Linked DNA regions of Homo sapiens. The protein of the gene in region 3 interacts with the protein of the main gene of each other region in a pairwise test. Each region holds a gene or a part of one and is shown on either strand. Other genes may lie near its edges.

Evidence for each region. The genes of interacting proteins can lie anywhere in the genome.
Region 1: the proteins of COMT (region 3) and HIBADH interact in binary tests that used the Homo sapiens proteins (3 or more experiments, as listed by UniProt).
Region 2: the proteins of COMT (region 3) and UTP6 interact in binary tests that used the Homo sapiens proteins (3 or more experiments, as listed by UniProt).

The regions. Positions count from the first base shown.
Region 1 is NC_000007.14:27,652,877-27,659,900, reverse strand, and holds part of HIBADH (3-hydroxyisobutyrate dehydrogenase, mitochondrial isoform 1 precursor), read left to right. Parts: intron 1-3,134; exon of another isoform or gene 3,135-3,269; intron 3,270-7,024.
Region 2 is NC_000017.11:31,898,702-31,906,127, forward strand, and holds the start of UTP6 (U3 small nucleolar RNA-associated protein 6 homolog), read right to left. Parts: upstream 3,008-7,426; 5' UTR 2,927-3,007; coding exon 2,835-2,926; intron 1,030-2,834; coding exon 945-1,029; intron 1-944. UniProt on the Homo sapiens protein: Part of the small subunit (SSU) processome, first precursor of the small eukaryotic ribosomal subunit.
Region 3 is NC_000022.11:19,958,760-19,965,783, reverse strand, and holds part of COMT (catechol O-methyltransferase), read right to left. Parts: intron 4,586-7,024; 5' UTR 4,495-4,585; intron 3,552-4,494; exon of another isoform or gene 3,258-3,551; coding exon 2,969-3,257; intron 2,219-2,968; coding exon 2,025-2,218; exon of another isoform or gene 1,950-2,024; intron 1,617-1,949; coding exon 1,485-1,616; intron 651-1,484; exon of another isoform or gene 1-650. UniProt on the Homo sapiens protein: Catalyzes the O-methylation, and thereby the inactivation, of catecholamine neurotransmitters and catechol hormones. Also shortens the biological half-lives of certain neuroactive drugs, like L-DOPA, alpha-methyl DOPA and isoproterenol.

The DNA.
Region 1 (7,024 bases), on a different chromosome or scaffold from region 3:
AAAATGTTTTTTGAGACAAGGCTAGTTGCCTACTACGCTGGTCTAGAACTACTGGCGTGAAGCCATCCTCTTGCCTTGACCTCCCAAAGTGTTGGGCTTACAGGCATTAGCCACTGTGCCCAGCCTGCCACATCTTAATTTTTAAATGTTTGTTTGTTTGTTTGTTTGTTTATTTGAGATGGGGTCTCTCTCTCTCTCTTGTCCAGGCTGGAGTGCAGTGGTGCAATCATGGCTCATTGCAGCCTCAACCTCGTGGGCTCAAGCAATCCCCCTGCCTCAGCCTCCCAAGTAGCTGGGACCACAGGTGCACACCACCACACCTGGCTTTATTTATTTATTTATTTTTTTTGTAGAGATGGGGTCTCACCATGTTGCCCAGCCTGGTCTTGAACTCTGGGGGTCAACTGATCCTCCTGCCTCAGCCTCCCAAAGTACTGGGATTACAGTCATGAGCCACTGTGCCTAAGCCTAATTTTAAAATACTTAAAGCATTGAAAAGGAAATAGAAGAATGAGAAATGTTAAAGTGTACATGTATTACTATTTCATCACCTGTTTGATAAAATTGTGTATGTTATTTTAGAAGGTAATTAAGTTTAGTTTCAGACTTATTTGTACAGAGAAGAAAATCTACAGCTATAGGCCCTCTACAAAATGTCACGTTGTGACTCTACAGCTTGTACATGGAAAAATAAATCACATCAGATCATCTTGAGGTGACCACCTGACCAAAGGTAGAATGGAAAAATTAGCATCATGTATAGAAACAGGAATACAATTTTTAATATTATTGGTCCTTTTTGTATATGTGAAATTTACTTTCAAAGTAGCATAACTCATTGGATAAATCAAATATATAATGGCAGTTTTTCCCTTTACATTAGCTTCTAGGGCTGCACATGAAGTTCTGAAAAGCTGCTCATGGTCCGGGGCCTAAAAGTTGACCCTAAACTTGTGAAATTACATAAGGAGCGTATTTATTACTAAAATAAGTTGACTGAAACCGTAAAGGCCTTTATAGAGAAAGTCGTCACCCTTAGTTTAGTAACTGTTAATAGTAAAGCAGATAGAGTGCTTATGACGTAGTATTATGTGATAAAATAGATATAAAAAATGTATTATGTGATAAAATAGACATACATTGTATAGAAAATATAACCTTATGATATAATGAAAAATGCAGTCAAAAGACTGAAAGTCCATGCAAAATGTTTTTTTTATTTTTGTGTAATGAGATTGCTTCCCCTTACAACTGTATACTTTTTCATTCTAGTTTTCTACAATGAAAATGCATTACTTTGAATAGAAAAGAAGCCTCAGAAATGTAAAATAATTAACTTGTTACCAATTTTTGCATTTTGACACTTAGTGAAACCTGCTTTTTGATAGCACTTAAGGTTATCAAGATACGGATAACTCCCCTTGTTACATTGGAGAAAGAGGTCATAATCGGTAAATTTGCATCTATAAATTTAGAAACAAACTTTGCCAAGTTTTCTGGCTAGTTTCTTTTCATTCGTCCTCAGTAATAGACACTAATGCTAGTTTCTTAACCAGTGAACCAGTATCACCTTTGTATTTGGTTGATTGATTTTCTCCCAGCTTGGTTTTATTTATGTTTTAACTCTACTTTTTCCACGCACTACTGTCAGAAGTTATTTAAAGAGAGATGCATTATTTAGGTTTGAGAGTTTTTAGGGCAATAATCATTCCATTATACTCATGGATTTCTGCCCCTTTGGGTGCAAATTATTTTATATTTGCCAAGCGCTTATTCAGGTGTTTCACCTTAACTAAAAGCTTTCTTTCCCCAGATACAGGGCTTCTCCTACAGTCATCTATACTTTTTTCTATCTCTTTGGCTCTTGTAACCCACTAGGCAAAAAGGGGCAGTTGGCATAGGACTTGACCTGTACTGCTACAACTTGACCATTTTTGGTAAGAGTAACTAATACTTATTATCAATCGTGTGCCAGGCACTGTTTAACGCTTTATATGCATCATCTCAAGTAATCTTTACAATAATCTTCTGAAGTAGGTACTTTTATTGATCAAATGTTGTCTAGAGAAGTTAAGTAACTTGTAACTTCAATGGTATACATCTAAGAAGTGAACTTATCAGGATAGGAACCTAGGCCTTCCCAACTCAGAGAAAATTTTAAACATTATCACCATCAATAGATAACTTATTCTCTTTTGACATCAGGTCATCTAATTATACTGGCCTTTCTTTAACTTTGCCACAGAGAAAGATGAAATAAAGAGAGCTGAGTCCTTTGAAAACTTTATCTTCATTCACATTCATGTTGGCCCATCCAACATGGCCTCATTGTTCTTAACTTCTTCAGCTTCAGTAACATCAGCACTCTACTTCAGTTTTTCTAGGATCTTAGTAGTAGGAGTGATTCTCTTGCTGAGATTTCACCAGCAGAACTAGTCTCTGGTTGATTTAACCTCCTCTGTGATTCTTGTTCTAACAAACATACTGTTACATAATGCTCATCACCTGGTCCTTTGACTCCCTCCCTTTTCCTCCAAGTACATAGACATGCTTTCTTGTTTCCTCATTTCATAAGGTCTCTCTCTAGGTTTGTCTGTACCCATTCTCAAACTTATTTATAATTAGGAATTTCACTGATGCCTAATACTGTTTTTTTCAGCCTCTTGTTGTATTTCTGGATAAATCCATTGTTGTGGTCTGTTTGTGCCTTTCCCCAGCTGTCACTTAGCTTGGTGATATGGAGAGTCACAGAAGTTTGCTGATTAGATACAATGCTTTCATTAATCTCTTGTTTATTCCCCATTACATTTTCAGATTTTCCACAGCATTTCCAGAACTTTAACTTAGGGCTGGCAGCTCCTGAACCAGTCATTTGGCAGAAGGATGCCATTACCATGTATTAGTTTAGACAGTTTGAAACTTGACCTCGGATCTACGGGAAAGAATATTGGAGAGTCAACCTGCAATGTGTAATGGTTGCTGTGACACTGTTTACCTTTACACAGTCCACTTTTATCAGCAGCATTACTTTGTAATTGCTTTAGAACTGGCTTTTATTCCCATATGCCCATTTGATGAAACTTACCTAGTTTATTATTCATTCACATAGCATATATTAAATTTCACTGTGCCACTTCATTTATTTCATTTTATTATAAAAGTAGTTACAAAAGTTACATGCTCATGGTAAAAAATGGGAAAGGTTATAAAATTAAAAGTAAAATTTTCTTCAACTCCGACCCAGTAGTCCAACTCTCCAGGTGTAAGTACTGTTTCGTGTGTATCCATACAGAAAATCAGAAAAATTAATGCATATGTATCATTTTTTCTTCTCTTATACTGTATCCTATAGATAATGCTCAGCATTTTTTTTCCACTTAATAACTTATCCTGGAGATTTTTTCCTATAATTTTAGATAAATGTCACCTTTTTTTAAACATTTGCACATTTCATTGTGTTGATTTACTGTGAATTATCAAGTGTCCTACAATGTACATTTAGTTATGAATTAAGTGCCCTATTAATATATAATTAGTTATGAATGAAGTGCCTTATTAATACATAGTTATTTGCAGTTTTTTGGCTGTTACAAGTAGTGCTGTAATAAACTATATCTTTGTGTTGTTCAGAATTTAATACATAGTAGGGATTGCTATGGCCCATAGTTGGGCACCTTGTTTGTAAATAAAATTGTATTGGAACACAGCCATACCCATTTGTTTGTATGTTGTCTATGGCTGCTTTCAAACTAGAGTAGATGAATGAAATGGTTGTAACACCATTTCACAATGGCTCACAAAGCTGAAAATAATTTACTGCCTGACTCTTTAAGACAAAGTTGGCTGGCCCCTCATGTGTAGTATATATTCTTAGAAATGGAATTGCTAGGTCAAAGAGTATGCATGTTTTAAATTTAAATTCTAAATAAAAGTTCAAATTTTTTTTTGCCAAATTACCATCCAAAAGGTCGACCTAATATACAATTTGACAGTATATGAGAGCATATGTTTTCATCAGTTATTTCTTACCAAGAGTAGTTTTTATCAAAGAAAAAACTTATCCAACAGGTGAAAAATGGTATCACATCATTTTGTTTTGCATTTCTCTAATTATGACAAGTTGGGTATATTTTTAGAGGTTTTCTGGGGGGTAATTTACATATTTTCTGTTGTCATTTTGTGATTTTTGCCTACTTTAAAAAATTATTCATGTTTTTCTTCCAGATTGTAAAGTTATTTTACATATAAAACAAAGTAGCTCTATTTTTGTCATGTGTTAGAGTGTTTTTCTTATTTGTATTTTATCTGTTTGTGATATTTTTTCCATATAGATATGCTAATCTTTTTCCCCTTGTTTTATTATGAAAAATATGAAGCAGAAAGTATTGAAAGAATAATATAACTGACATCCATATACTCTTTCCTTAGAAACAAGTTGTTAATATTTTGCCACATTGACTTTTTTTCTTCCACATATATACCTATCCCGCTTGAATCATTTGAAAGTAAATTGCTGACATGACACTTTAACCCTAATGCTTCAGCATGAATCTAAGAATGAGGATATTCTCCTATGTAACCAAACTACCATTATCCTACCTAAGCCAATTAGCAGTGATTCCATGGTATCATCTAATGTACAATTTGCATTCAAAATTTCATTATTTTCTTAAAGGCTAGCTTTTTTTTAAAGTCAGGATCCATTCAGACTTCACACTTTACATTTGATCTATCACTTTAGTACTAATTGAGAACTGTCTTCTCTTGTTTGTTTCTATATATATGATACTGACTTTTTAAAAACAGCTTTATTAGCAATATAGTGATATATGATAAGTTGTACATAAAGTATACAGTTTGATTAGTTTTGATGTATATAAGCCGGTGAAGCTATCATCACAGTCAAGAGAGTGTGGCTGGGTGCGGTGGCTCACGCCTGCGCTCCTAGAACTTTAGGAGGCTGAGGCCCACTGATTGCTTGAGCTCAGGAGTTCGAGACTGGTCTGGCCAACATGATGAAACCTCATCTCTACAAAAAAATGCAAAAATTAGCCAGGACTGGTGGCATGTGCCTGTAGTCCCAGCTACTTGGGAAGCTGAAGTGGGATCATCTGAGCTTGGGAAGTTGAGGCTGTAGCGAGCTGTGATCATGCCACTGCACTCTAGCCTGGGCGACAGAGTGAGACCCTGTCCAAAAAAAAAACACAAAAAAATGGTAAACATATCCATCATCATACCCCTGAGATTGATTCATACCTCTGGAATATACAAATATTTGTATATTTTTCTTGGTTATAGATTTCTAGCTTGATAGTTGTTTTTTCCTTCTGGTATTTAAAAAATGTTGCACCACTGTCTTCTCACTTGCATTGTTTCTGATGAGAAATCTGCCTTTATCCTTATCTTTTTCCCTTTCTACATAGTGTGTCCTTTTTCCTGTGGCTGCTCTTGTGCGTTTGATTGTGATGCATCTTAATATGGTTTTCTTCATGTTTCTTGTATTGGGGTTCATAGAGTTCCTTGGATGCATGGGGTTTGTAGTTTTCATCAACTTTGGAACATTTTTGGCCATTTGTTCTTCACACATATTTTCTGCCCCACTTCTCTCTTCTCATTTGAGGACTCTAGTTACATATGTGTTTGGGTGGTTGAAGCTGTCTCACAGCTTATTGATGCTCTCTTTATTTTTTAAATTATTTTTTTCTTTGTGTTTTGAATAGTTTCTATTGCTGTATCTTCAAGGTTATTAATCTTTCCTTTGGTATCTACTCTTCAGTTAATCTTCTGGTATAATTTTCATCTCACATATTTTAGTAGTAGATTTCATCTCAAGAAATTTAATTTGTATTGATAAAAATATCTTTCATAATTCTACCTTTGGAATATATAGACTACAGTTATAATTTTTAACGTCCTTGTTTTCTAATTCTAACATCTGTTTCAGCTTAGGGTTGGTTTTGACTTTTTGACTTTTGAGTATACACGTTCCCTTGGGCTTCAGAGAGGTTCAACTTTGGCCTTCAGCCTCTTCATACTCATCTGGTGATTTTATTAACTTTTACAAATTTCACCTCTTAACTTTTGAGACAAATGGCTACCAGGTATATCTCTTTTTTCTCATCCTATCACTGAAACCTTGGTCATGGTATTTCTTTTTTTTTTTTGAGACAGAGTCTCACATTGTCGCCCAGGCTGGAGTGCAGTGGTGCGATCTCAGCTCACTGCAAGCTCCGCCTCCCAGGTTCATGCCATTCTCCTGCCTCAGCCTCCCGAGTAGCTGGGACTACAGGCGCCTGCCACTACACCCGGCTAATTTTTTTTGTATTTTTAGTAGAGACGGGGTTTCACCATGTTAGCCACGATGGTCTCGATCTCCTGACCTCGTGATCCGCCCGTCTCGGCCTCCCAAAGTGCTGGCATTACAGGCGTGAGCCACCACGCCCGGCCGGTCATGGTATTTCTAATAGTCTGTTGGACATCTTTTCAGCTCATTGACAGTTCATAGTTACCCTGGGTAAAACTGAGCCAGCTCTCCTTGATTTCTTCACTTAGGTATTGATAACACTATTCTCTTACTGTCATTTTGGACCTCACCCTTATTTTAGCCTATAATCCAATCCATTGTTTTATCCTTTTACTTCTGTCTTTGAAATAGTTTTTATACCTGTCTTTTCCTGTGGCTACCACACTTTATTAATTTTGACTTTGTTATGGACTGAAATTTTATGTCCCCACAAAATTTATATGTTGAATTCCTTTTTTTTTCTTTTTTGAGACGGAGTCTCGCTCTGTCACCCAGGCTGGAGTGCAGTGGTGCGATCTTGGCTCGCTGCATCCTCCACCCCCTATGTTCAAGCAATCCTCCTGCCTCACCCTCCTGAGTAACTGGGATTACAAGCACATGCCACCATGCCTGGATAATTTTTGTATTTTTAGTAAAGACTGGGTTTCACCATGTTGGCCAGGTTGGTCTCAAACTCCTGACCTCAGGTGATCCACCCACTTTGGCCTCCCAAAGTGCTGG
Region 2 (7,426 bases), on a different chromosome or scaffold from region 3:
TCAATTAATCAACCAATCAATCAATTTGTGAAGGGATTAAAAAGTAAGGCTAGGACCGAGCATGATGCCTCATGCCTGTAATCATAGCACTCGCTTTGGGAGGCCGATGCTGGTGGATTGCTTGAGGCCAGGAGTTCGAGACCAGCCTAGCCAACATGGCAAAACCCAGTCTCTACTAAAAGTAGCTGGGTGCGGTGCCATACGCCTGTAATCCCAGTTACTGAGGAGGATGAGACTTGAGAATCACTAGAACCCGGAAGGCAGTGGTTGCAGTGAGCCAAGATCGCGCCACTGCACTCCAGCCTGGGTGACAGAGCAAGACTCTTGTCTCAAAAACAAAAATAAAAAAAGTAAGGCTGGGCCCGGTGGCTCACAAACACTTGTAATCCCAGCATTTTGGGCGTGGGCAACATGCCGAAACCCTGTCTCTACAAAAAACACAAAAGCTAGCCAGCCATACTGGCACACACCTGTAGTCCCAGCTACTCCAGAGGCTGAGGTGGGAGGATGGCTTCAGCTCAGGAGGTGGAAGCTACACTGAGCCATGATGGCACCACTGCACTTCAGCCTGGGTGAAAGGCGAGCCCCTGCCTCAAAAAAAAGTAATGAAATTATTAATTATTGGCCGGGCACTGTGGTTCACACCTGTAAGCCCAGCACTTTGAGAGGCCAAGGTGGGTGGATCCCTTGAGATCAGCCTGGGCAATGTGGCAAAACCCAGTCTCTACCAAAAAATTAGCCAGGCATGGTGGCATGCATCTATGGTCCCAGCTACCCAGGAGGCTGAGGTAGGAGAATCGCTTGAGCCTGGAGGGCAGAGGTTGCAGTGAGCAGAGATCACACCATTCACACCACTGCACTCCAACCTGGGTGACAGAGTGAGATGCCATCTCACCAAAAAACAAAAAAGAAAAAAAGAAAGAAATTATTAATTACACACTTACTTGAACATAATTGATAAAGTCTTCCTTGAAAAGGGTTCTTCTCTGGATTTTGTACTCTAGATCGGAAGCCTTCTTAATGATAGCCCTGAGGAGAAAGCCATTTAAACTTCACTTGAAAACTGCAAAAATTAAACGTTTAAGTTTATTTTGAATATATTTAAAACATGTTTTTCAAAATACGAAATTCCTAGAGTTATCTTTCATAAGAAAGTATTATCGGCCGGACACAGTGGCTCATGCCTGGAATCCCAGCACTTTGGGAGGCTGAGGCGGGTAGATCAAGAGGTCAAGAGACTGAGACCACCCTGGTCAACATGGTAAAACTGCATCTCTACTAAAAATACAAAAATTAGCTGGGCGTGGTGGTGCGTGCCTGTAGTCCCAGCTACTCGGGAGACTGAGGCAGGAAAATTGCTTGAACCTGGAAGGCGGAGGTTGCAGTAAGCCGAGATCGCGCCACTGCCCTCTGGCCTGGCGACAGAGCAAGACTCCATCTCAAAAAAAAAAAGTATTCTCTTACACAATTACTTTTGTGTTCTTAAGGGTTCATTTTTAAACTTTCAGGAAAATCATCTTAATCAACTCCCAAAACCAATGACATTCCCACCAGCAAAGCAAATACAATTAAGAACTTTATACCATTTATGTATGGTGTTTTTTTTGTTTGTTTTTTTCTCGCTCTGTCGCCCAGGCTGGAGTGCAGTGGCATGATCTTGGCTCACTACAACCTCGGCCTCCCGAGTTCAAGCGATTCTCCTGCCTCAGACTCCCGAGTAGCTGGGACTACAGGCGCTCACCACCACGCTCAGCTAATTTTTGTATTTTTAGTAGAGACGGGGTTTCACCATATTGGCCAGGCTGGTCTCGAACTCCTGACCTCGTGATCCACCCACCTCGGCCTCCCAAAGTGCTGGGATTACAGGCGTGAGCCACAGCGCCTGGCTGGTATTAATAAAGACTTCTTTTACTCCAAGTTCAGGTCACTTAAATTTTAATAATAAATTTCTTTCCGAAATTCCTCTTATTTCTGAGTTCTCAACATGTAAATTTTTTTAAAAATCTAAATTGCGTCTGCCTTAAAAGACTTATTACTACGAAGGACTTACGGGAGAAGATTCAGAGTCCTTAGCTAAGGAATGAACATATGACAAATATATATTAGGAGAATTTAATGCAAGATGTGCAAGACAGGTGTCTTTAGTAATGGTAACATTAACCTTAACTGAGCACTTTCTAAGCGTCCACACTGCTTTGTTTTGTGTTTCATTAACGAATGCTTACTTTGAAGCTCTGAGTCACATTACTACATTCAGACGTTGCAAAACAAAGCAACAGTCACAGAAACCATTAAAAACTATTAAACATAATTTTAACACGCTACTGAATGTCTACCATGTGCCAGGCGCTGTAGTTAGGCTCTGGAGTAGCATATGAAACTGATTTCAATGGTCCCCACCTTCAAGTCTAGTTAGGAATTTATCCACTCCCCCTGGGCTCTCACAGCACTCTGTTCCCATCCCTACAGCAGTACAAGGTACTACAATCAACTTACAGTACACTGTTATCAAAATATTTAATTTGTCTGTCTCCCCCACCACACTCTGCCCAATTAGCTCCTAATGAGCAGGAATCCTGGGTTTATCACCTTTACAGCCCTAAGACCCGGCTCCATGAAGGGCTGTCAAAACGTCTGATGGGTAAGTAGACGGACGGATTACCTTGCAACGAATGAAAAATTAATTCTGGACATCACCGAAAACGAGAAATGGGCTTCCACCACGTTAGGAAAAGTAAACACAGGTCGAGCGTCCCCACATCTAGCCCCTGCCACACACTCCCAACCTCCCCTCAGGCCGCCTCAGCTCTTCCCTCTCCCCAACCCTCTCTCACTTAATCTCCGCATGACTGAACAGTCCAATGCGCTCCAGCTGTTCCAATTCCGGGAGCCGATCTTCTATGCGTTCCTGAATTATCTCTGCCATGAGGTCCGAGGTCTACAACCCCGCGGGTAGCTTCTCAACAGCGAACACGAGCAGGAAGCTCCCGGTTTCAGGTTCGGAGACCCAGCCCTACCACCGACGCGTCCGGACGTAACGTGCTCCCTAGGTCCCGCCTTTTCCGCTTCCGCCACCTCCTACTTAGGGGAAGGCCCTTCGGCTTCTACAGCCACCGTCCCCTCCCTGTGGCCGATTGTGGGATTGCAGCGAGAACCCGCCCTGGTCTTGGGCAGGACGACTCTAGCGGACAGGAGTTGAGGGGCGGGGCTAGACGGGAGGGAGGGGTTAAGTGCGCGCGCCGCTAGACTTGGACAGCCATCAGGAAAAGCGCCTCCAGGTGTAGAGAGGTGGGCTGCTCAAGCCTGAAAGGGACACGAGATGCATTTTCTTCAGAATATTGTCTCCCATCCCACGTCCTGACTTCCCAACACCAAGAACAACAACAAAAAAAAAAGCAAAGGAGGAGGATATTGTACAATTAAACATTTTTGAAAGCCGGTCGCGGTGGCTCATGCCTGTAATCCCAGCAGTTTAGGAGGCCGAGGCGGGCAGATCACCTGAAGTCAGGAGTTCGAGACCATCCTGGCTAACATGATGAAACCCCGTTTCTACTAAAAATGCAAAAAAATTAACTGGGCGTGCTGGCACGCGCCTGTAATCCCAGCTACTCGGGAGGCTGAGGCAGGAGAATCGCTTGAACCTGGGAGGCCGAGATCGCGCCATTGCACTCCAGCTTGGGCAACAAGAGTGAAACTCCGTCTCTAAATAAATAAATAAATAAAATAGAATTGTTTATTATTTAAATCAATATCCTGTCTTTGTAAGCAATAGCTTTCAAAATATATGTCCCTAGGTGAATATCAGACACTATAAATTCTTTTTAGAAAAGGAGATTTTTGTATTGAAAAGTTTGAGAATTACCAAAATAAATCACTAAGGTATAGACACCCTCCTTAAACCATTGCCCAAGCAACTTAGCATTTCTAAGAGAAACACCAGGCAACACAGCTTGGAGGCAATATTGCTGGTATAGTTAGTAAACCTCAAATGATAACTACATGGTTCAGTTCTTTTTTAGTTCTGGATATAAAAAAGCCAAAGCAGCAGTTCTTGCTAAATCTGCTTATTTCAACATTCACATTAGCACCTGGATCCTGTGTGTGATTTATGAAAGGAGAATGGGCTCAGCAAAACCATGTTCCACCTCTGTGCCTTGCATTTCTTTCTTTCCTTTCACATTTTACCCACTCATCTCAGAACTGAGACGAGGGTTGGCTTGTGCTACACCATTTCTTGAATCCTTCAGCTGTAAGACATGTCAGAAGTGGAAGGAAATCACGAATGTAAGACAAAGATAGAATTTATTTGTAAAAGTAAAATCTCTGGGGCTGTGTTAACAGTAAGAGTGGAGATGACACTAGATAGTAAACTCCATATGGGCAGGGAATTTTTTCCTTTTTGACTGGCTAGATACTCTACAGCTTATAGCAGTGCCTACCATATAATAAGTACTCAGTTAATAAATGCATGACACTAAGAAAAGGTACTTGCTAAATTTCTTTAGGTACAAGGAAGTCAGCAAGTTATGACAGACTGTAATCATTTCAAAGTAAATTTGATAGAGACCTTCATAAATTAACCATGATTTTTATTTTATTTTATTTTATTTATTTATTTAGAGACAGAGTCTCGCTCTGTCACCAGGCTGGAGTGCAGTGGCGCGATCTCGGCTCACCACAACCTCGACTCCCCTGGTTCAAAGGATTCTCCTGCCTCAGCCGCCCGAGTAGCTGGGACTACAGGCACGTGCCACCACACCCAATTAATTTTTGTGTTTTTCGTACATACAGGTTTTCATCATGTTGGCCAGGATGGTCTCAATCTCCTGACCTCATGATCCACCCGCCTCAGCATCCCAAAGTGCTGGGACTCCAGGCGTGAGCCAACGCGCCCGCCCAATTTTTAAATCAAACTAACTATAAATACGCTCCTCCTTTATATTGTTTTGTTTTGTTTTGTTGTTCTTTTTAAGACCGAGCCTCGCTGGCCAGGCACTGTGGCTCACACCTGTCATCACAGCACTTTGGGAGGCCGAGGCCACGGATAACCTGAGGTCAGGAATTCAAGACCAGCGTGGCCAACATGGAGAAACCCCGTCTCCACTAAAAATACAAAAAAATTAGCTGGGCCTGGTGGCCTCTCTCTGTTGCCTAATGGGGAGTGCAGTGGTGCGCTCTCGGCTCACTGCAACCTCCACCTCCTGGGTTCAAGCGATCCCCCGAGTAGCTGGGATGACAGGCGTGAGCCACCATGCCCGGCCTAATTACGTTTTTGTTTTGTTTTGAGACAGGGTCTTACTATATTACCCAGGCTGGAGTGCAGTGGTGTGACCACAGCTCACTGCAGCCTCAACCTCCTGAGCTCCAGCAATGCTCCCACCCCCGCCTCCCAAGTAGCTGGGACTACATGTGTGCCCCACCGCACCTGGCTAATTTTCCTTTTTTCTTTTTTGTAGAGACAGGGGTCTCACTATGTTGCCGAGGATGGTGTTTTTGTTTTTGTAAATAGAGACAGGGTCTCACTGTATTGTCACCATGGTCTTGAACTCCTGGCCTCAAGTGATCATCTTGTTTCCCCTTCTCAAAATTCTGGGATTACAGGCATAAGCCAGCACGCCCAGCGATCCTCCCTTATTTTGAAATTTAGCTTTTTTTTTTTTGAGATGGAGTTTTGCTCTTGTTGCCCAGGCTGGAGTGTAGTGGCGTGATCTTGGCTCACTGCAACCTCAGCCTCCCAGATTCTAGTGATTCTCCTGCCTCAGCCTCCCGAGTAGCTGGGATTACAGGCGCCCACCACCACGACCAGCTAATTATTGTCTTTTTAGTAGAGACGGAGTTTCACTATGTTGGCTAAGCTGGTCTCGAACTCCTAACCTCAGGTGATCCGCCCACCTCGGCCTCCCAAAGTGCTGGGATTACAGGCATGAGCCACCACGCCTGGCCAAAATTTAGCGTTTATGTATATATTCTTGTTGTTGTTGTTGTTGTTGTTGTTGAGACGGAGTGTCAGTTTGTTGCCCAGGCTGGAGGGCAGTGGCATGATCTCGGCTCACTGCAACCCCCGCCTTCCCGTTTAAACGATTCTCCTGCCTCAGCCACCTGAGTAGCTGGGACTACAGGCGCACGCCACCACGCCCAGCTAATTTTTGTATTTTTGGTAGAGACGGGGTTTCACCATGTTGGCCAGGCTGGTCTGGAACTCCTGACCTTGTGATCGATCCACCCGCCTCCACCTCCCAAAGTGCTGGGATGTGAGCCACCCCGCCCTGCCTAGCTTTTATATTTACCTTCAAGAATTATTATGATGGGCCAGGCGCAGTGGCTCACATCTGTAATCCCAGCACTTTGGGAGGCCGAGGTGGGTGGATCACAAGGTCAGGAGTTCGAGACCAGCCTGGCCAACATGGTGAAACCTCCGTCTCTACCAAAAATACAAAAATTAGCCGGGCATGGTGGTGCGTGCCTGTAGTCCCAGCTACTCGGGAGGCTGAGGCAGGAGAATCGCTTGAACCCGGGAGATGGAGGTTGCAGTGAGCCAAGATCACGCCACTGCACTCCAGCCTGGGTGACAGACCGACACTCTGTCCCAAAAAAGAAAGAATTATTATGATGTTTTGGAGGCCAAGGCAGGTGGATCACCTGAGGTCAGGAGTTCACAACCAGCATGGCCAACATGGTGAAATACCCCCCCACTAAAAATACAAAAATTAGCTAGACATGGTGGCGGGAATCCCAGCTACTCTGGAGGCTGAGGCAGGAAAATTGCTAGAACCTGGGTGGCGGAAGTTGTAGTGAGCCATGATCACACCACTACACTCCAGCCTGGGAGACAGAGCGAGACTCCGTCTCAAAAAAAAAAAAAAATACTTGGGAGGCTAAAGCACAAGAATCGCTTGAACCCGGGAGGCAGAGACTGCAGTGAGTCGAGATCGTGCCACTACACTCCAGCCTGGGCAACAGAATGAGAATCTGTCTCAAAAAAAAAAAGAATTATTATGACAGAAATGACAAAGCCTTCTTTTCACTTCTGCATCTCATAATAATAGCTGTCATTGGCCCGGCGCAGTGGCTCACGCCTGTAATCCCAGCACTTTGGGAGGCCAAGGTTGGCAGATCACAATGTCAGAAGTTCAAGACCAGCATGGCCAGCATGGTGAAACCCCATGACTCTGTCTCAAAAAAAAAAAAAAAAGCTGTCATTATGTAGGGCTTATTGTGTGCCCAGCTACTATGTGCACTGTTCTAAGTCCTTTATGTTTTTTTGTTTTTTTTTTTGTGAGCCGAAGTTTCGCTCTTGTTGCCCAGGCTGGAGCACAATGGTATGATCTCAGCTCACTGCAACCTCGGCCTCCCAGGTTCAAGTGATTCTCCTGCCTCAGCCTCCTGAGTAGCTGAGACTACAGGCGCCCGCCACCACGCCTGGCTA
Region 3 (7,024 bases):
TCCACGGCCAGGGTTCAGTGCCTCCTCGTGAGTTCAGGGCATCTGAAATGCCCTCCCCACAGCCCTCTCCACACTCCACAAGGCTGACAGGGATCTTTCCAGAAAAGTTTTTGTTGTTTTTTGTTGTTTTGAAAGCTGGAATACGGCCGGACGCAGTGGCTCACGCCTGTAATCCCAGCACTTTGGGAGGCCGAGGCGGGCGGATCACGAAGTCAGGATATTGAGACCATCCTGGCCAATGTGGTGAAACCCCATCTCTACTAAACTACAAAAAACTAGCCGGGTGTGGCAGCGCGCGCCTGTAGTCCCAGCTACTCAGGAGGCTAAGGCAGGGTAATCGCTTGAACCCAAGAGGTGGAGGTTGCAGTGAGCCGTGATCGTGCCACTGCACTCCAGCCTGGTGACAGAGCAAGACTCCATCTAAAATATATATATATATTTTTTCTTTTGCCATGTTGCCCAGGCTGGTCTCGAACTCTCCTGGCCTCAAGCGCTCCTCCTGCCGTAGCCTCCCAAAGTGCAAGGGTTACAGGCATGAGCCCCTGAGCCCAGCTCCAGAAGACAGGTCTAACCTCATCCTCACCTGCCCAAAGTCCTGTGTGCCCTGACTCCCATTGTTCCTGGAACATTCTCTGCCCTTTCACACCTCAGGCTTCTGCTAGTGCTGGTTCCTTCCAATCCGTGTCCAGGGTCCAGCGGCCCTACCTAGCCAGGCATGGGGGCTGTGCCCCTCGTGCTCCTAGTCCGGCTGCTAACAGCAGTGTCCAGTTTCTGGGAGAGCTGCAGGTGAGCGAGCACCAGGTGGGGAGGCCGTGAGGGTGGGTGTCCCAAGCCCAGTGGAGGATCACAGAGCCACTCAGTGTCGCTGACCACCAGGGAGGGATGGGGCAGTGTGTCACTGATGTGAGGCTCCTTAAGCATCAGTCTGTGAAGGGCCACCAGTGCCCCACGCCCCCCAGGGAAGCGAGGACAGCCCCACCCGCTGTCTAGCCTCACTCGGGGCACTCAGGGTCCTCGCCAGTGGGGCTGGGTTGGGGGAATGCACAAGATGGGGCCTCAGGAGGAAGATCTGCAGGAGACACATGCTTTCTTTGCACGAGCAGTGGCTTGCTTGGGGGAGAGCAGGCTGGGCCCAGAGCGGCCCTTCCCCACCCCATCTCCTTGGTCCTGTGCCGTTTCTGCCCTGGTGTCTGGTCTGGGGTGTGCACCCCACTTCTGCCACCCATTTTGCACCTGCACAGGCAGCTGGCTCCCCAGTTCCCAACAGGCCACCCAGCCAGGCCCCTGGCCCAGCTCCCCACCCATCTCCACCCACCACAGGGCCTCCTCAGTCCCCCACACTCCCAGACCTCAGGTGGTGCCTCCAGAGCGAGCTGTGTCCACACAGGGCTCTACTGGAATGCCTGGCTCTTTGGAGAGGCTGAGGCTGACTGAATGGGCTCTGGGCAGCAGCTGGCACGGATGCCATCCTGGTTGGGGCTCACCTCCAAGAGAAGCGTGTCCGGCAGGTACCGGTCCTTCCAGTGGTCGAGGAAGACCATGTCCAGTGTGTCCACATCATACTTCTTCTTCAGCTGGGGGATGATGTCCTGGGACGCTCCAACCACAAGGGTGACCTGGAACAGCGCCTGTCAGTGCCCACGTCCTCACAGACAGGAGGCCATCCCTACACACCTATACAACAGCGCCTGTCAGTGCCCACGCCCACACAGACAGGAGGCCATCTTTACACACCCATACAAGCATTCATCAGTTTTCTTTAGGGTTCTGGGATGACAAGGCCCCACTCTGTCCCTGCCCCTCCTGGTGCCACCTTGGCAGTTTACCCAGAGCTGTGAGACCCTCACTGAGCTGCTGGGGGGGTCTTTCCTCAGCCCCAGGCTGGGAAGCACTGAGGGGCCTGGTGATAGTGGGTTTTCAGTGAACGTGGTGTGAACACCTGGTGGGGAGGACAAAGTGCGCATGCCCTCCCTGCCCACAGCCGGCCCTTTTTCCAGGTCTGACAACGGGTCAGGCATGCACACCTTGTCCTTCACGCCAGCGAAATCCACCATCCGCTGGGTGATGGCGGCACAGTCGGGGTTGATCTCGATGGTGATGAGCCTCGCCCCTGGTGACAGCAGGCGGGCCATGCGCACAGCTGAGTAGCCACAGTAGGCCCCCAGCTCCAGCAGCACGGAGGGCTGGTGCTCCTGAATCACGGCGTCCACGATCTTGCCTGTGCAGGGTTGGGGACGGAGGAGAGGTGAGCACAGGTGGAGAGAGGGGAACTTGGATCCCCAGGCACGGCCCCCCACCTCTCCCAAAGAGCAGGAGCCCCTCCCAAATGCCTGGCCGCTGGCCCTCCTCTGCCCACCCTCCCTACCCGCTGGAGGGGTATTTCACCTCCCTGGTGTCCCCAGCCCCCAGGACCTGGTCCCCACTGTGAGCGCGCTTGGAGCTCCCATGGTCCCTTAGCCTCTATGCTCACGCTGGTCCCTATCTTTTCCACCCTTCCTGGCTGGCCCCAGTGTGTCCTAACACAGAGCTGCCCTCTCTGAATCACCGAACCGCCCACCTTGGGGCCCTGGGGCGGCACTAGTTCCCTGAGTCACTCCGTGAGCCCGGTAACACATCCTGTGCCCCAGGCTGAAGTTCAAGCGGGAGGCGGGCCCAGGAGAACCTGTCTGACTGGTCCCCAGGCAGGTCCCATGGTGGCCAGAACAGAGTTCAAGGGGAACTGCACCACCGTCAGACCCTGTGAGTGTGGGGGCCTGTTGTCCTGGGGCAGCAGGCAGCAGGGCCTGCAGGGGTCATCAGGGACCCTGGCACCCTGGGACTCCAGAGGAGCCCCCCAGCCCTATCTGGGCATATCCCAGGGTTCCCAGCCCCCTGGAAATGGGGTGATAACAGCTTCTCCTGTAAGGGCTTTGATGCCTGGTCCTGGGTCCCTGTCCCAGAGCTGAGCACCTGCTGGCCCGGACCCCACCTTTCTTGTCGCCCACGTTCATGGCCCACTCCTTCTGCTCGCAGTAGGTGTCAATGGCCTCCAGCACGCTCTGTGCGTTCCCGGGCTCCGCATGCTGCAGCACGTGGTTCAGGATGCGCTGCTCCTTGGTGTCACCCATGAGCAGGTTGTGGATGGGCTGCAGGATGAACTCGTTCCAGCCGATAAGGCACAGGCCCCAGCCCCAGTGCCTCAGAAGCAGCAGCAGCACCACCAGCAGCACCAGGCCCAGCAACACAGCTGCCAACAGCAGAGGCGGGGCCTCCGGCATCTGCAGGGCGGGAGGGGAGGGGCGCCAGTGCTCTGTGCTCCTCCTGCAGCACCCACACGCCCCTTTGCTTGGAGTGCCACCATCGCCCCCTTGTGTTTGCAGAGGGGCAAGGTTCAGAAATGCCAGCCTTGTGCCTCAGTTGCCTGACGTGTCAGCGCCAGGGAGCCAGCCTTCTCGTGCCCTCTGGTGCCCTCGGGTAGACAGAGCAGGTGTGTGCCTCTGGCAGTCCTGTGTGGAGCCTGCAGGGTCACACTCCCTGGCCCTGGGTGCTTCCCCAGGCAGCCCAGGGATCCTCTAAAACCACACAAAATACAGAAGCAGACACGGACTCAGGCTGTTGTCTCCCAGCTGGCTTAGAGGACACCCAGGGGTAGGGAAGCCCCATGGCCCGGAGTTGGGGGTAGTCACGGGTGGCCAAAGGAGAGGCTGTATGGTGCAGCCCCTTGGCCTCATGTGGTGAGCCCGTGCTGGTCACCCATGCTCTGGACGCCCCAGGGATTCATGTGGCCTTTTCATTGAGTGTCCAAGTAAGGACACTGGCAGTCCCCAGGCCAGGCACACCAGGACAGACCCACTCACCACTCCCCTTGGGAACAGCAACGTGGCATGTCCCAGATGAGAAAGGCCAGCCCTGCCGCCCACAACAGTGTACCTCGTGGGGCACAGTGATGGCAAGTGACCCCACTTGAAACCTGTTTGAAATCCTCCTGGTGTGACCCTCCAGGCAGGTAGCCTGGGAACCAGACAGAAGCCTGGTGAGGGGACCCAGCAGGCAGAGAGCAGAGCACAGGAGGCCTGAGGCAGAAGCCCAGGGGTTCAGGTCACAGACCCTAAAACGGGAAGGACACAAGGAAACTTCTTCTAGGGCCCCTGTGCTCACTCAGAGGTCTTTCTGGGATGGGGCCCTGGGCTCCCAGTGGCATAGGAGATCCCACTCTCTGCTGGACGCTCCATTTTAGAAAGGCACACCCAGGCAAGGAGGCAGGCCTAGGGCCACAGAGGGGACACCCCTGGAGGCCAGCCTCAGGGCACCAGAGGACAGAGCAGAAGAGAACAGGGAAGCAGAGGCTCCGCCCTAGGGGGAGGTCATGCGGACACCAGGCTTCTAGGGGATTTCAGGCCATGTGGCCTATTTACACAGGCAGAGTGGACATGTGCTCAGCAGACCTGTGCCCATGCACCGGGCCGGAATCTGTACCCACCCTGGCACTGCCCCGGCTTCCGTTGGCCAACTCACCTTCAAAGCACCTCTGAGCAGGCTCCAGCCCTCTGGCTGCGGGAGGGGTCTGGGGTCTCCTCTGAGCTCGGCAGCAAAGCAGATGTTATTTCTGTGGAAATCAATTTTGCCTTTGGATAATCATCAACATAAACCCTAACCTGGCGATGACCAAGGTCCAGATACCTGAGCCCCTTCCCCGGATAGGGCCAGCCTGGCCTGAGCCTTCCCTAGCAGGGCGAGGGCAGTGCTTCGCCTTTCCGGCCTCAGAAGAGACAGCAGAAGGCCTCAGAGAGGCCAAGGGACATCCCTACTAGTGTCCCCCAGCCAGGGACCCCAGGGGCAGTCTCCTGGTCCCTGTCCACACTGCCCTGTGGGCTATGTGTGTGTGCACCTGCACCTTGTGAACCACAAGAGGAGGGAACCACTCTGCTCAAGTTGTATTTCCCCTGAAGAGTCCTTAGTACCTTGGAAATGATGTGTAAGACCAAGGGCTAGTTTACCAAGAACATACACAAACCAGTAAGAAAAAGATGATGAGACAGATAGGTCACAGTGGCCAACATGCAGCTCACAGGAAAAGGCCAAAGGCCAGAGCCCCGAGCAGGTGATGGAACCCGGTGCAGGGCTCAGTGACAGTGGGGGTGCCCCTGTCCACAGCTGCAGGAGTGGGAATCGTGCTGCCTTCTGCTGCTACCCTTGGGAAGGGTCCCAGGCCTGCAGGGAAACCCGTGGCCCACTGTGTTTCCCAGCGGGGCAGGACGTGCCATGACCCACAGGGCTCGTGGGGAAAAAACAAGAGATGGTGCTTCCCTAAGGACAGTGTCCTTATTCTGGCAGGAAGATGACAGGGGGAACCATGGTGGAGAGGGACCATGCAGACCTGAAGCAGCCAGAACTTTCCACCTTGCTCCTTTCTTCATGGTGGGGATTTCCTATGACACAGCCTGTTGCTTTGTTTACTATTATTTATCTGCTATGGTTTATCTATAATGACTACTAGTATTTGTGTGGTCAGATAATGGGCCATTTTGTTTACTCTCCATATTTAAAAAACAGTGTTAGAAATATATACCCCAAATTAAAAGGGCTATTCTGAAACAGCAAATTACTTGGTAGACCTTGGAGTCCCAAATTATAAATCCAAATCTGCGTTAATACTTGAATTGTGTAAGAATTTGGCTTTTGAATCTCTAATCTCTAGGTCTGTCTGTTCATAAATCTGCAGGCAGTGTCTCCCAGGGCCTAGTGGGAGGCAGCAGAGGGGAGGAGGCCACAGCAGGGAGGGGCCCGAAGCCCCCTTCCTTTGCCTGGCAGGAGGGACCGGCCCACTCCACTCTGCAGGCTGGGCCTGGCTGGTGCAAGGAGGCACCCAGTGCCCGCCTGTCCCACCTGCCCGCGGCTCTGTGGCCAACTGGGGTCCAATGGCCAAGAGCCATGGGGGCTGGGGAAGTGCTCAAGGCCAAAGGCTCTGCGGCCAACTGGGCCCCAACGGCCAAGAGCCATGGGGGATGGGGAAGTGCTCAAGGCCAAAGGCTCAAAGGCCAACACGCCCAGGCCACAATGCAGTGCCTGGGGGCTACAGTGCCCACGGCCACCTCACAAGGCCCTCCAGCAACCGCCAGAGGAGAAGAGCGCTGGGATTCCCTTGTGAGTGTGAACTGAAGCCCTGAGCAGAGGGACTGGCTGCCCCGGGCCACCAACAGAGCCCTGGCCCCTGCCCACCCCACCTCCCGACAGCTAACCACCTCCGCTCCGCCCCGCCCCAGCCCCGTAGGGCCTCCCCGCCCACCCTCCTCTCTGCTCGCTGGTGTGGGATGGGAGGCCCCAGAAGGGGAGGCCCCGCCCACTGGGCCGGGAGGGACGCGGGACCACATCCAATTGACTTTGGGACCACGCCCACCCAGCCACGGAGGAGGGTGGGATCACGCCCACCTGGCCATCCGAGGGCTGACCCTGCGCTGTCACCGGCCACTGCCCAGTTTCGCAGGACGAAAGAGCAGGCAAGTGAGAAAATGGAGGGCGGGTCCTGAAAAGCCGAGAATCAGGCCTCCCTTTAAAGAAAGCCACGTAGAAACCCACCTGTGCTACTCAAAGCTGCTCGGATGTTCCCAGCCCTGGGATTTTGCCCCGTCAGCCCTCCATGGGGAAAAGGAACAGCTCCTTTAGTTTGGGGTCCCAGGACTCGAGAGTGGGCACGCCAGCTCAGTGTCCGACTCGGGACCCCCTATGATCCGATCGCCCTACTTTGGCTGTGTGGTCTGGGGAGCGTCAAGAGTCCCCCCTTACCTTACAGAGAGGCAAAAAGACAGTTTTGAATGCCCCTGTGGTGGGGGGCGGTGGGGTGCAGGCCGGAGGACCGAGGGGAATTCTCTCTGCTTTTGTGTATGTTTGAAATGTGCTTTTTTTTTGTTTTTTTGAAACAGGGTCTCACTCTGTCGCTCAGCCTGGAGTGCAGTGGCGCGGTCGCAGCTCACTGCAGTCTCGACCTCCTGGGCTCAAGGGATCCTCCTGCCTCAGCCCCCCCAAGTAGCTGGGACGACAGATGTGC